Homo sapiens: one gene and its partners. The protein of the gene in region 3 purifies or fractionates together with the protein of the main gene of each other region. This does not show direct contact. Each region holds a gene or a part of one and is shown on either strand. Other genes may lie near its edges. The genes, in order: SHTN1, LDLRAP1 and AHR.

Region 1 (3,653 bases), on a different chromosome or scaffold from region 3:
CAACCTTTACAATCCAGAGATAAGCACTAGTACCATTTTAGTGTATATTCTTCCAATCTTAAAAAAAACTCTCTCTACATATATACATATTAAATGTTTTGTTAAATATGTTTATATATATATTTATATATATATGGAAGACAGAGGAAATACCAGTAAAAGGAATCTCTTTATACTTGCTGGTACCTTACAAACCCATGAACATCCCTCTCTACTCTTACCCCTCCCTTGAATTTTTATTATTTCCTTTCTTTTATTTGTAGTTTTGCCAAATATGTCTATATCTCTAAACAGCATTGTTTAATTTTGCATATTTTTGAACTCTATGTAAATGGAATCATTTTTCCTGTAACCTTCTGCAACTTTTTGTGTTTGTGAGATTCATGCATGTGGACAGGCATAGCTGTGGTATGTTTGTTTTCACTGCTATATACTATTCCATTAGATGACTACACTAAAATTATTTTAAGTAGTATCCTATTGGTAGACTTTGGGCTGTTTCCATATTTCTGCTATTCTGAGTCATGCTGTTATAAAAAATGTTAGACATGTCATCTGGTGCACATGTCCAAGAGTTGCTTTAAGACACATGCCAAATGTCAAATTTTATCTTCAGTTTTTTTTCACTGCATACCAAATTTAATAAAACCATGCTTTAAAATTTTTACCAGTTGCCTCTTGGATGGGTGTAAGAAGTGTTTTTACTCTGCATTTCCTTGATTCCTAATGAAGATGAGCATCTTTCCACATGTTTATTGGCCTTTTGTATATTTTCTATTCTGTGAAATGGCTGTTGATGTGCTTTATCTGTGGCTTTTAAAGAACAAAAATGAATTCACTTTGCACTAATTTTTGCAATCTATTTTTAAAAATACATCACAGATGTCTTTCCATTTACTAAGTATGCTTCTACAATATAATTTTGATGGCAGAATAATATTTCTTGTACTACAATTTACTCATTCTTCTGTGTTAGAGTATTATGTCATTTCACTTTTATCAGCAATGAGGTAGAGAGCATCCTTGCAACCAAATGTCTGTATATGCTCATGTGTTACAATCTTAGCATATGCATTCCTGGAAGTGGGATTATTCAAAGTGTATGAATAGTTTTAGATTTTTGATTCACGTTGCCAAGTTGCTCTCCAAAAAGGTTTTATCAGTTTGTATGCCAACCAGGAATGCATGAGGGTACCTGTATGCTGGTATGAAAAATCTTTTCAACACTGTTTTTCATCCATATTCCTGATTATTTGTGTGACTTATTGTCTGGGTTTTTTTTTTCCTTTATCTTCTTAAGTGTCCATGTTAGCTGTAGAAGAGTATGAGGAGATGCAAGTAAACCTGGAGCTGGAGAAGGACCTTCGAAAGAAAGCAGAGTCATTTGCACAAGAGGTGGGTATCTTGTAAAAATCTTATTTTTTTTCTTGAGACAGAGTCTCGCTCTGTCACCAGGCTGGAGTGCAGTGGCGCAATCTCGGCTCACTGCAACCTCCGACTCCCTGATTCAAGCGATTCTCATGCCTCAGCCCCCCGAGTAGCTGGGATTACAGGCACACGCCACCGTGCCCAGCTAATTTTTGTATTTTTATTAGAGATGGGGTTTCACCATGTTGACCAGGATGGTCTTGATCTCCTTATCTCGTGATCTGCTCGCCTTGGCCTCCCAAAGTGCTCCCAAAGTGAGCCACCGTGCCCAGCCGTAAAAACCTTTTGAATTTTTGTTTTGTAAGGGACCTTGCAGACGACATATCAGACAAATTCTTGAGGTTGAATAAGAACTTACCAGTTTGAATTAAGGATCTGCTGGTTTAGGGAGGCAGATATAGAATAGTATCAAGTTCATTGTCAAAAGATCTGGGCTCAAATTTTGGCCATGTCAGTTACTAGTTGTAGTAGTGTATGACCTCTGAGCAATTCTTCAGCCTCTCAGGGCTTCACTTTTACCATCTGTAAAATGGACAATAATACAGACCTGACCAAGTGGATTTTAATGGCAAAATTTAAAAAAAGTGTTGTATAAACTATAAAATGCTATGTAAGGGAAAGGAATTGCATTTGGAGACAACCCATGACTTGTGATGGAAAGTCCAACTTGGGTACAAGATGCCTGTACATTTCAAATAGGCTTAAAATCTGGGATGTATCTCCATATACCATCTCAGATAACAGTATTATGGTATCAGTATTTCTCTTCAGCCATTGTGCAGTGCTGTCATTATGCCAGGAAGTTCTTCCACTGGCTGTGGAACACTGCCATGTAGTACATTCATTATCTCAGCGTTTCACCAGCCTACTGATCTTCCTCTTATGTTAGAGATCAGCTTTGAATCTCTTGTTCCGGCTTACCTGTTGACATGCAGTCGTTGGGTCTTCCATGGCCCTGGGGCTCATCCAGGGGGATGAGGAGTTCACCAATGGGCTAAACTCAAAAGCTGGTCTGCAATGAGATCTCCATCCTGTGGGTGTAGTTTGAATTTGTGTGCATACTGTAGGTTGAAGGAAGATAGCTCAGGAAATGTAAAACAGTCCTAGGTAGAGGTATCCAAGGCATAGAAGGAAGACAAAGCATGGCATTAGGGGAATGACATTTGAAAATCCAATGATGGTTTTGTGGGGGTCTTTCTGTGCTTGAGCATAGCTGTGCTAGCAGTGAACTCTACCGAAGGTTTAGGCCAAGTAGATCTGATTTGAAATATTATGATTCGTTTTATTTAGAGAGTTTAATGAAAGGTGAGTAAATATTTTTCTCTTATTACTTGGAAGAAAGAAAAAAGAATTGAAGTGTGTCAGAGCTCTCTGGAAAACGTTGGAGCAATATAAATAATGCAGTGAAATAAACAGTGGAGGGGGAGGGGAAGCAGGGATAATGTGAAGATGCCTTTATTGCAAAACTGGAAAGGTCGGCTGATTTTGACCTGAATAGCAGGTCTCATTTCAAGACATGTTCAGTTTTCCATCTGTTGTTTGCACAATGATGTTAGAATACAAAGCAGCTCAAAGAAAAACTTGAAGGCCATGTGGTAGCAGAGAAGACAGATGGAAGAAGCAAGGTTGCAGTAAGAAGACAAAAATGAATGATTGACTCTGCTGTTCACCTGGTCTTCAGTCTTAGTGGTTGGTGGAAACAATAATGCTGACATGTTAACCCAGAATGAGAAGGTAGAAGTTTGAGGAGAGAAAGAAAGCAAGAGCAATGGTACTTACGTTATTGGCAGCATAAATATTTGCAGTGGCACTCAACAATTTTACAATATCTAGATTCAATCTACACAATAGTGAGAAGAAAACTTTTTTTTAAAAAATAGCACCACGTTGGAACTAGTATATTTTCCTTTTTACAAAGTTTATGCATTCTCAGGTTTTCAACAGGTAAGTACTGCACAAAGACACATAACTTAGTTTAACAACAGAGTCCCATTCTTTTGCATTTTACTTACCACTTAGGGCATGCAGCAAACATCTTACTGTGCCAGACACTGTGCTGACATTGGGAATCCAGTGGTGAAGAAAGCAAATGTGAGCCCTACCCTCTTGGAGCTTATAGTCTAGAGCCTTAGAAATCAATTTTTAAGGTTAATTTACTTTATATTTTTAATTAAAAAGGAGTATGTGTGCCTTGCACAAAGATACAAATATTTTCTAAATGTATA
Region 2 (3,653 bases), on a different chromosome or scaffold from region 3:
TCACAATGCTTGGCCTCTTGGCCTGAGCGTCCACGGCTCTGCCCACCACAAGACCAGCCAAAGGCGCCCTTGTTCTTGGTGTGGCAGAGCTCGCTCCTACCACCCCTCCCCCTCAGCCGCCTGAATGAGGACCCAGAGACTTGGGCAGTCACCAGCTTGGTCCCTGACTCCCTCAGGGACTCAGGGCAAGCCCCCTGACCTCTCTGTCTCAGCTTTTTCATCTCAGTAAGGGTGATGACCTCTGCCAACGGAATCTCCCCGAGGAACCTGAAATTTAATTTTAATTTTTCATTTGGAAATAATTTCAGACTGTGTTACAAAATTAGTACAGAGAATTCCTGTTCACCCGTCATCCAGATTCCCCAATTGTTAACATCTTGCATGACCACATTACACTGGTCAGAATCAGGAAACAAACACGATACTGTGCTGTTATATAATCTATAGAACTTACACATTTCTCCAGGTGCCCCTTCAGTGTCCTGTTTCTGGCCCAGGATCCATTGCAGAATCACATGTTAACTTGTCGTCTCTTTAATTTTTAAAAATCTGGGTACTGGGGGCTCCCCTGGTGTCCCTCGAGCCTGTTCTCTGCTGTTTGGGAACCACCCTTGCCACTTGCCCATCCTCACCAGAAGGCCATGGAGGGACCTCACCTGTCGCTTTTCTGCTGAGGCTGTGGGACTCCTGGCATCAGTTATCCCTCATGAACTTGGAATTTTGGCTTGGCTTTTGGAAGTAAATGAAGGCAAGAAAACTCCCTTCCCCACCCTCTTCCTTTTGGAATTTGAAAGCCATAGAAGTCATCAGGTCCAATGCCCTCCTCTTATTGAAGGAAAAGCTGAGTTTCAACGTGGAGCAGTGACTTGCCCAAGGTCTCACGGGCAGGTAGCATGGACCAGGGCACTGAACCCACCTGGGTCTCCAGACACCCTGGGACATGGCCTTTCTCCTCTCCCACGTCTCCAGCTTTGGGTCCTTGGGCTGAGATGCTGGCGATGCACCCAGGCAGGAGGCCTGCCTGAGGCCGTGCCTCCAGGCGCCCACCCTGAGCTTGTGTCCTGAGTCCCTGTAGCTTACCCAGGGCTGGGACAAGCCCCAGCTGTGAGCATGGGCTCCCCCAAACATAGTTCTTATCTCCTGCTTTGTTTTCCCCAAGGAGCTGGATGATGGCCTGGATGAAGCGTTTTCGAGGTAATGCTAGCTTCCTGTGCTGGGTAGGGGGCCTGGTGTGCGTGGGCTGGCCCTGCTGCCCTTTCTCCTGGGGACCTTTCCCCTGATTAAGAACACAAGCCACTCAGACCCCCTCCAGAGCAACAGTCCCATCCCTCCACTCAAATGCTTCCAGGGGCAGGGAGCTCACTGGGGAGGAAACCCCTTCCAGCGTTGTCCAGAGCTGTTAGAAAGTTCTTACTGTTGAGTCAAAAACTATTCCTGGTGGCTGCTCTGCCGCAGTCTGAGGTGAGCGAAACACACTGCAGCTCAAGTTGATTTCCTCCGACTTGAGGAGGCGTGGCCTTCAAAAATGGGCTTTTTTTTTTTTTTACAGGCTTTGCTCCCTCCACAGGTCTGTGTTTATGAACAGGGGAAGGGAGAAAGTGTTTAATGAAGCTCGTGAAGCGTTCCATAGCAGGGAAGGTCAGGCACAGTGAGGAGGTGTTTTGGTATAGCCTTTGGTGGCATTTCCCCGTTTTCCCAGGGGCCATCCTTGTGGCCCCCTGCAGCTTGGGGACATGCCACTGAGAAGGCTGTGGCTGAGGAGAGGCCTGGGCAGGTCAGGGTTCCGAGCCCTGGGTCCCCGTCTGTCAGGCCTCCCTTTCTCACTTGAGACCCTCAGCAGCCTCCTACAGCCCTCCCACATCAGGGGCTTTGTTTGGGGTTGGAGTCAGCGATTTTTGGTCCAGCGGGTGGGGACAGAGTCAGGGTCTTTGCCCTCCTGCCTCCTCCTTCCTCTTCCTTGCCTCCTTCTTGCCAGGGACTAGTGGAAACCCCTTGGTCCAGCCTGGGGCGAGGGCGACAGTGACACCTTCCCTGCCTCACTGGCTGACGACACCTGCCCTCTGAAGAAAATCTTTTGTTTGCTTTCTCCACATTATTTTGAGCATCATGTGCCCTTTATTAACAATTTTGAAAATCAGCAAAGCATTAAACAGAAAGTAACACCATCCTGTAATCCCACAGCCCAGAGTTTTGGGCTTAATTCATGCTAATCCTATACATATACATTATTTTGCATTGATCAGCTCATCGTATTTGCATTTTGGGATCCTGATTTTTCACTTAACAGCGATGTGTCAGAAGCATTGCTCCAGGCTGTTAAAAGCTCCTCGTAAACACCTCTTCCATTGACTGCCTAACATTCTCTTAAGGGAAGCTGCTATAATTTACTTGACTCTCCCCTATTCTTTTGGACATGTAGGTTGTCTCCCTTTGTAAATTTATTTTTCGAACAGCACGGTGTTGACACAGTTATAGCCAAAGAATCTTCCGTGTTCCCTCCCACAGCTTGTTCCCCACCCCACCCCCACCCCCGCTGCTCCCTTTACCAGCCCCTTCTCCTCTTTCCTGGGCATGTCCTGACTGAGCTGGGGCACAGAGTGGGTGCTCTGGCCTCTCCCGGGGGTGGGTGCACCGCTGGCTGCCCCTGACTTTTCTGAGCTGTTTGACTCTCAAGGGGAGGTGCTTTGATCTGAGGTTACTCCACCTCCCCTGCACCGGGGGCTTCCTTCTTGGGCCATGTGCCCTGCTGTTCCCCACTGGTGCCCCCTCGCGTCTGACCCTGGGGCGCGCCAGCCCTCACCCAGGCTCTCGGCTCACACAGCTCTGCCTTCCAGGCTTGCCCAGTCTCGGACAAACCCTCAGGTCCTGGACACTGGCCTGACAGCCCAGGACATGCATTACGCCCAGTGCCTCTCGCCTGTCGACTGGGACAAGCCTGACAGCAGCGGCACAGAGCAGGATGACCTCTTCAGCTTCTGAGGGCCCGGGGCCAGCCGGACACAAGCGGCCCTGACACGTGATGGACCAAAGCCACCTGCTGCGGGGGAGCCAGTTCTGGGGCCCGCCTGCCACCTCTCCCAGCCCTCAGCATTGTCAGCCTGAAGATCAGAGCTGCAGCCAGTCAGGCAGGGGAGAGATTTTTCTTTTAAGCCCTGCTCTTTCTCTGAGAACCAAAAGATGCCTTGAATATTTATTCAGTGACTTCTGGCTTATGCTCAGAAGCCAGTCTGCGTCAGGCACGTCTCCTGCTGCGTGACATGTGCAGTGCTGTAATCGGCTCCCGCTTGCTCTCCTGGAGCAAGCTCTGCCCTGGCTGTGGGTATCAGGACTGTGACCAAAGCATTTCTAGTCCCTTCTCTCTTTCTAAGGACCCAAATTTCCCTGGGGGCATCCTGCTTCCTGAAAGCTGTTGGATTTCAGTGATTTTTCCCCCCACCCCCCAGCACAGGAGAGCACCCACAGCCGCAGAAGGGGAATGTGTCCTCCTGCTCTGCTTCCTCAGGGCCCAGCAGGCGGGGGTTTGAGCCCTGGACCCCAGGCTCTTAGAGACTAAGGGGCAGCTCCTGACCAAAGACGATACAGCTTGGCACTTTAAAGCATTAACAGCAGGTGTGACCCTGAGGGCTCCTCCATGGTGCTGCATTGAGTCCAGC
Region 3 (3,653 bases):
ATATGCCTGAATTAATGAAAATGGTTGGATTTAGGAAACACAAATAATATTTGTGTGCAGAAAGATATTAATTTAAAAAAGAAAAAGAATACTTTATATAAAATATACATCCTAGAGTGTTATAGGTAGAAAAAAATGTGAGGCACTTAGATGAAACAGTGAAGGAGGAAAGCACTGAGATTATCTTTTTATAAAAAGCACCAAACCATTTATTTTAACATCTGAGATAAAAGCAGAGGTTAACATGATAGGAAAAACTAGTTTAGTTCTCTAACTTTGTATTTGGGGAACTAATAAGAATCCAGTAGCTCAAAACTCAAAGTATTTTATTTTTACTGTGACAGAAATAATTCAAATAGAGAATATTTTCTAATTTAAAAGAATCTTAGTTTCCCTGATAAAGTTTTGTATATTTTGTGGTGCCCAGAATAATGTGAAATGTAGACGGTACCTCACCACTCCGTGGCAGCACCCTTTCTATCTTGACTGTAGTATATGTAATTTTGATACCATTTTTAAACTCCCTTTTCTAAAAGCAAAAATTAAAATTTGGTTTGGAATAATTGTGAATAGCATGCATCAATGCCTCCATGTGAACTTGCTGACGTCCAACAGTGACAGTTTTATTTTTCCATAATCCTTCACAAACTAATTTAATCCAAAAACCAGGGTCAAAATTGGGCTTGGAATTACAGGAATCCACTGGATGTCAAATCAGGAAAAGGTCTGGCTTCTGACGGATGATGAAGTGGCTGAAGATGTGTGGTAGTCTGAGTGTTATTTATGTTATTTAATTCAGCTGGATATGTTTCATTTAAAACTCCATTCTGAAACTGAAAACAAAAATGGTGATGCAACTTATTGGAATAGATCTTCCAAGTATCTTAAGCCAGTAAATAACATTAACATGTATTTTTAAAATCTTACCCCTGAGAGTTGTAAACTTCAAGTTCCTTTACTGTTGCTAAATTTTAAATCTTTCACACAGTGAAGACATACTGAGGACATATTATGTATTAGTTGCATTTATAACCTGTTTTTCCATTAATTTGACAGGAAATTTTGAACATGGTACAGATGAGTGATGCAGCTGTCTCATTTCAGATTGCCTTTGGGTCAGGTAGGAATTGATGGGTCAAACAGCACAAGTCACAAATTACAGTTAAATATTCTCTATCATAAGTAGGTTTGCTTTGACCAGGTTTGAAGTTATAGGTATCAATGAATTGATTATATTCAGGAATCTTACACTGGAATGCAAAACTTTTCCAAAAAAGGCAGCTTCTGATTTTCTAAATGTTTCTAAATATTCCTAAAATATTACACCACAGGTATGATTTTCTTAACCGATTTCTTATTCATAATATACTTTTAATTAATGAATACTACTGAAAGCATAGTTCTAATTACAGAATCAAGTTACCAAAAGAAAATGCTCTGTCTTGTTTTCTTACACTGCAATGAATCTGGTTTCTATAACTGCTAGTAGAAAAAAGAAAAATAAAAAGGAAGGACATGAAGATGTATAGCTCTGTAGAGTTTTATAGATTACAGAGCCTTTATATTTTAGTTAGTGGACGTTCTGGAAACTTTAAAACAGATTAAAATCATATCCTTAATTGCTTCAAATAAAATCTACCTTTGTAAAGCCTACATAACTGGCTTCAGTAATCAAAATGTTAATTACTTCACAGATCCTCCAAAACATATATAAAATCTATAGTAAAAATCATATAACCTGTATCTTCAATGAATGGCAACACTGTAAATTCTTTAAATAAAAAGTTAGTATTACCTGGCCAGATAATGGTGAGTTTAAAATGATTTTTTCTCATTACTCATAACACAATTCATGTCACCATTCTCTTTAAACATACTGTACACAGCAGTGTAATCCAATAGAAATATAATGTGAGCCACATACAGAACTTAAATTTTTGGCTACAGTAGATTAAATAAAATACATTTCTAAAGTTAATTTTACCTGTTTCTTTTTACTTTTGTAATGCGGCTACTGAAAAAACTAATCATTTCAACATGAAATCAATAATAAAAGATGAGATATTTTACATTCTTTTTTCAAGCCAAGTCTTCAAAATCCAAAAATCCAATGTGTACTTCACACAGCACATCTCAATTTGGACTAGCCACATTTCAAGTGCTGAACAGCTACTCAGTGGCTCAATATTGAGTGTCTTAGCTCAATAACATGTACTCTGGAACATATGTAGGTCTATAGAATTATTTGGTTATTTACAAAGAAGCAGTGAAAAGTAGTGAGGGGAAAACACTGCAAAGAACTTATGTGGTACTCATGCAACTCCTTATTCAAAATGTAATTTTACAGAATTAACTTCTGTACAATTTGCTTTACTCAAGAGTAAAATATACTTTCATAGCAATTTTGTGAGACGGACTATAACTGAATATTATTCAATTTTAATATAATTGAAGGATGTAAGGAATAAGAAAAATTTTCACTGTCCTTTTCTATTAAAAAGCTCATATACGATTAGACAAGCAAAATGTATGAAAAAGCCAGAAAATACAATTAAAGATAAAGCTTCAGGTCATACTTTTAATTATTATACTCTAATACAGAGTAAACAGGGGTCAAGGAGCTTAATTTTAGTCAAGATATTCTTTAAAACTAAACTTAAATATACTTTAAAATGAACTAAATATTTTCTAATGGAAAAAGCATAAATGCAAACATGATGTATTCCTGAGTGGCCAGAGACAGCAGTTACTGACATTATGTTAACTTTTTTTTTTTAAGTGATCATTTTTAGATTTAAAGTGTGCTCACTGCCAGACGGATTCTGATGACACATTTAAACAACAAAAATGCACTATCAAGCTTGATTTCCATGACAGAAAGCCAGCTGAGTTACCTCTTTTAAGAAAGCCAGAAAAGAAAGCCATTCTACCTTAAAGGATGAGATGAGGATAGGGGAGGTAATGTGGAGGAATAGCTAGAGAACATGGAGGTGCCTAGGACTGAATTCCAGGGATATAATTAATCTAGGGTTTCAGAGGCATTGTAAGAAAGCACACTTAAATTTGAGTTTAACTCAATTTCAAACATATATAAAAAAATAGAGCTTTGAAGAAATTATTCTTAAAAATTGCAATACGTTTTTTAAAGCTTGAATTTTTAAATAGCCATATAATTTTTAAAGAATCCAGAAAGAATAAACCAAATTATCTATTTTAAACAAAATACTTCTAAAAACTAATTTCACCTGGTAATTTAGGTCATCTTATATTAAGGACACATTCATGTTGCTTCATTCCTTGATATCTTTCTCCCTCATGAATCAGGTGAATGATATATTAGTAACATACTGGAAAAAGTACAGGCTTGTAAAAAAAAAAAAGGTAGTCACAGATATAATAAAAAATGCTGTCTCCATGAATGCTGTAGATAACCGATTAAAATCAGCTGACATAAAAAATGTGTAACATGTCTATAAGGTAAAAAGAATCACTGAAAGATTTAATTCAGTTTGATAACACCCTTACCTTGTTTAAAAATGCCTGTTGGCCTGGCAGTACTGGATTGTACTGCATCTGACCCACGTGGGTGTGCTGAGGTTCTGGCTGGCACTGATACATCGACACGGCCCCAGCATAACATGTCTGAGGAGTTA

The links.
Region 1: the proteins of AHR (region 3) and SHTN1 purify together in Homo sapiens (affinity purification with mass spectrometry; one large-scale study listed by BioGRID and IntAct). This does not show direct contact.
Region 2: the proteins of AHR (region 3) and LDLRAP1 purify together in Homo sapiens (affinity purification with mass spectrometry; one large-scale study listed by BioGRID and IntAct). This does not show direct contact.

What each region holds. Positions count from the first base shown.
Region 1 is NC_000010.11:116,942,666-116,946,318, reverse strand, and holds part of SHTN1 (shootin-1), read left to right. Parts: intron 1-1,300; coding exon 1,301-1,395; intron 1,396-3,653. UniProt on the Homo sapiens protein: Involved in the generation of internal asymmetric signals required for neuronal polarization and neurite outgrowth.
Region 2 is NC_000001.11:25,564,014-25,567,666, forward strand, and holds part of LDLRAP1 (low density lipoprotein receptor adapter protein 1), read left to right. Parts: intron 1-1,159; coding exon 1,160-1,194; intron 1,195-1,348; coding exon of another isoform or gene 1,349-1,403; exon of another isoform or gene 1,404-2,834; coding exon 2,835-2,979; 3' UTR 2,980-3,653. UniProt on the Homo sapiens protein: Adapter protein (clathrin-associated sorting protein (CLASP)) required for efficient endocytosis of the LDL receptor (LDLR) in polarized cells such as hepatocytes and lymphocytes, but not in non-polarized cells (fibroblasts).
Region 3 is NC_000007.14:17,340,101-17,343,753, reverse strand, and holds part of AHR (aryl hydrocarbon receptor), read right to left. Parts: coding exon 3,526-3,653; intron 834-3,525; coding exon 690-833; 3' UTR 1-689. UniProt on the Homo sapiens protein: Ligand-activated transcription factor that enables cells to adapt to changing conditions by sensing compounds from the environment, diet, microbiome and cellular metabolism, and which plays important roles in development, immunity and cancer.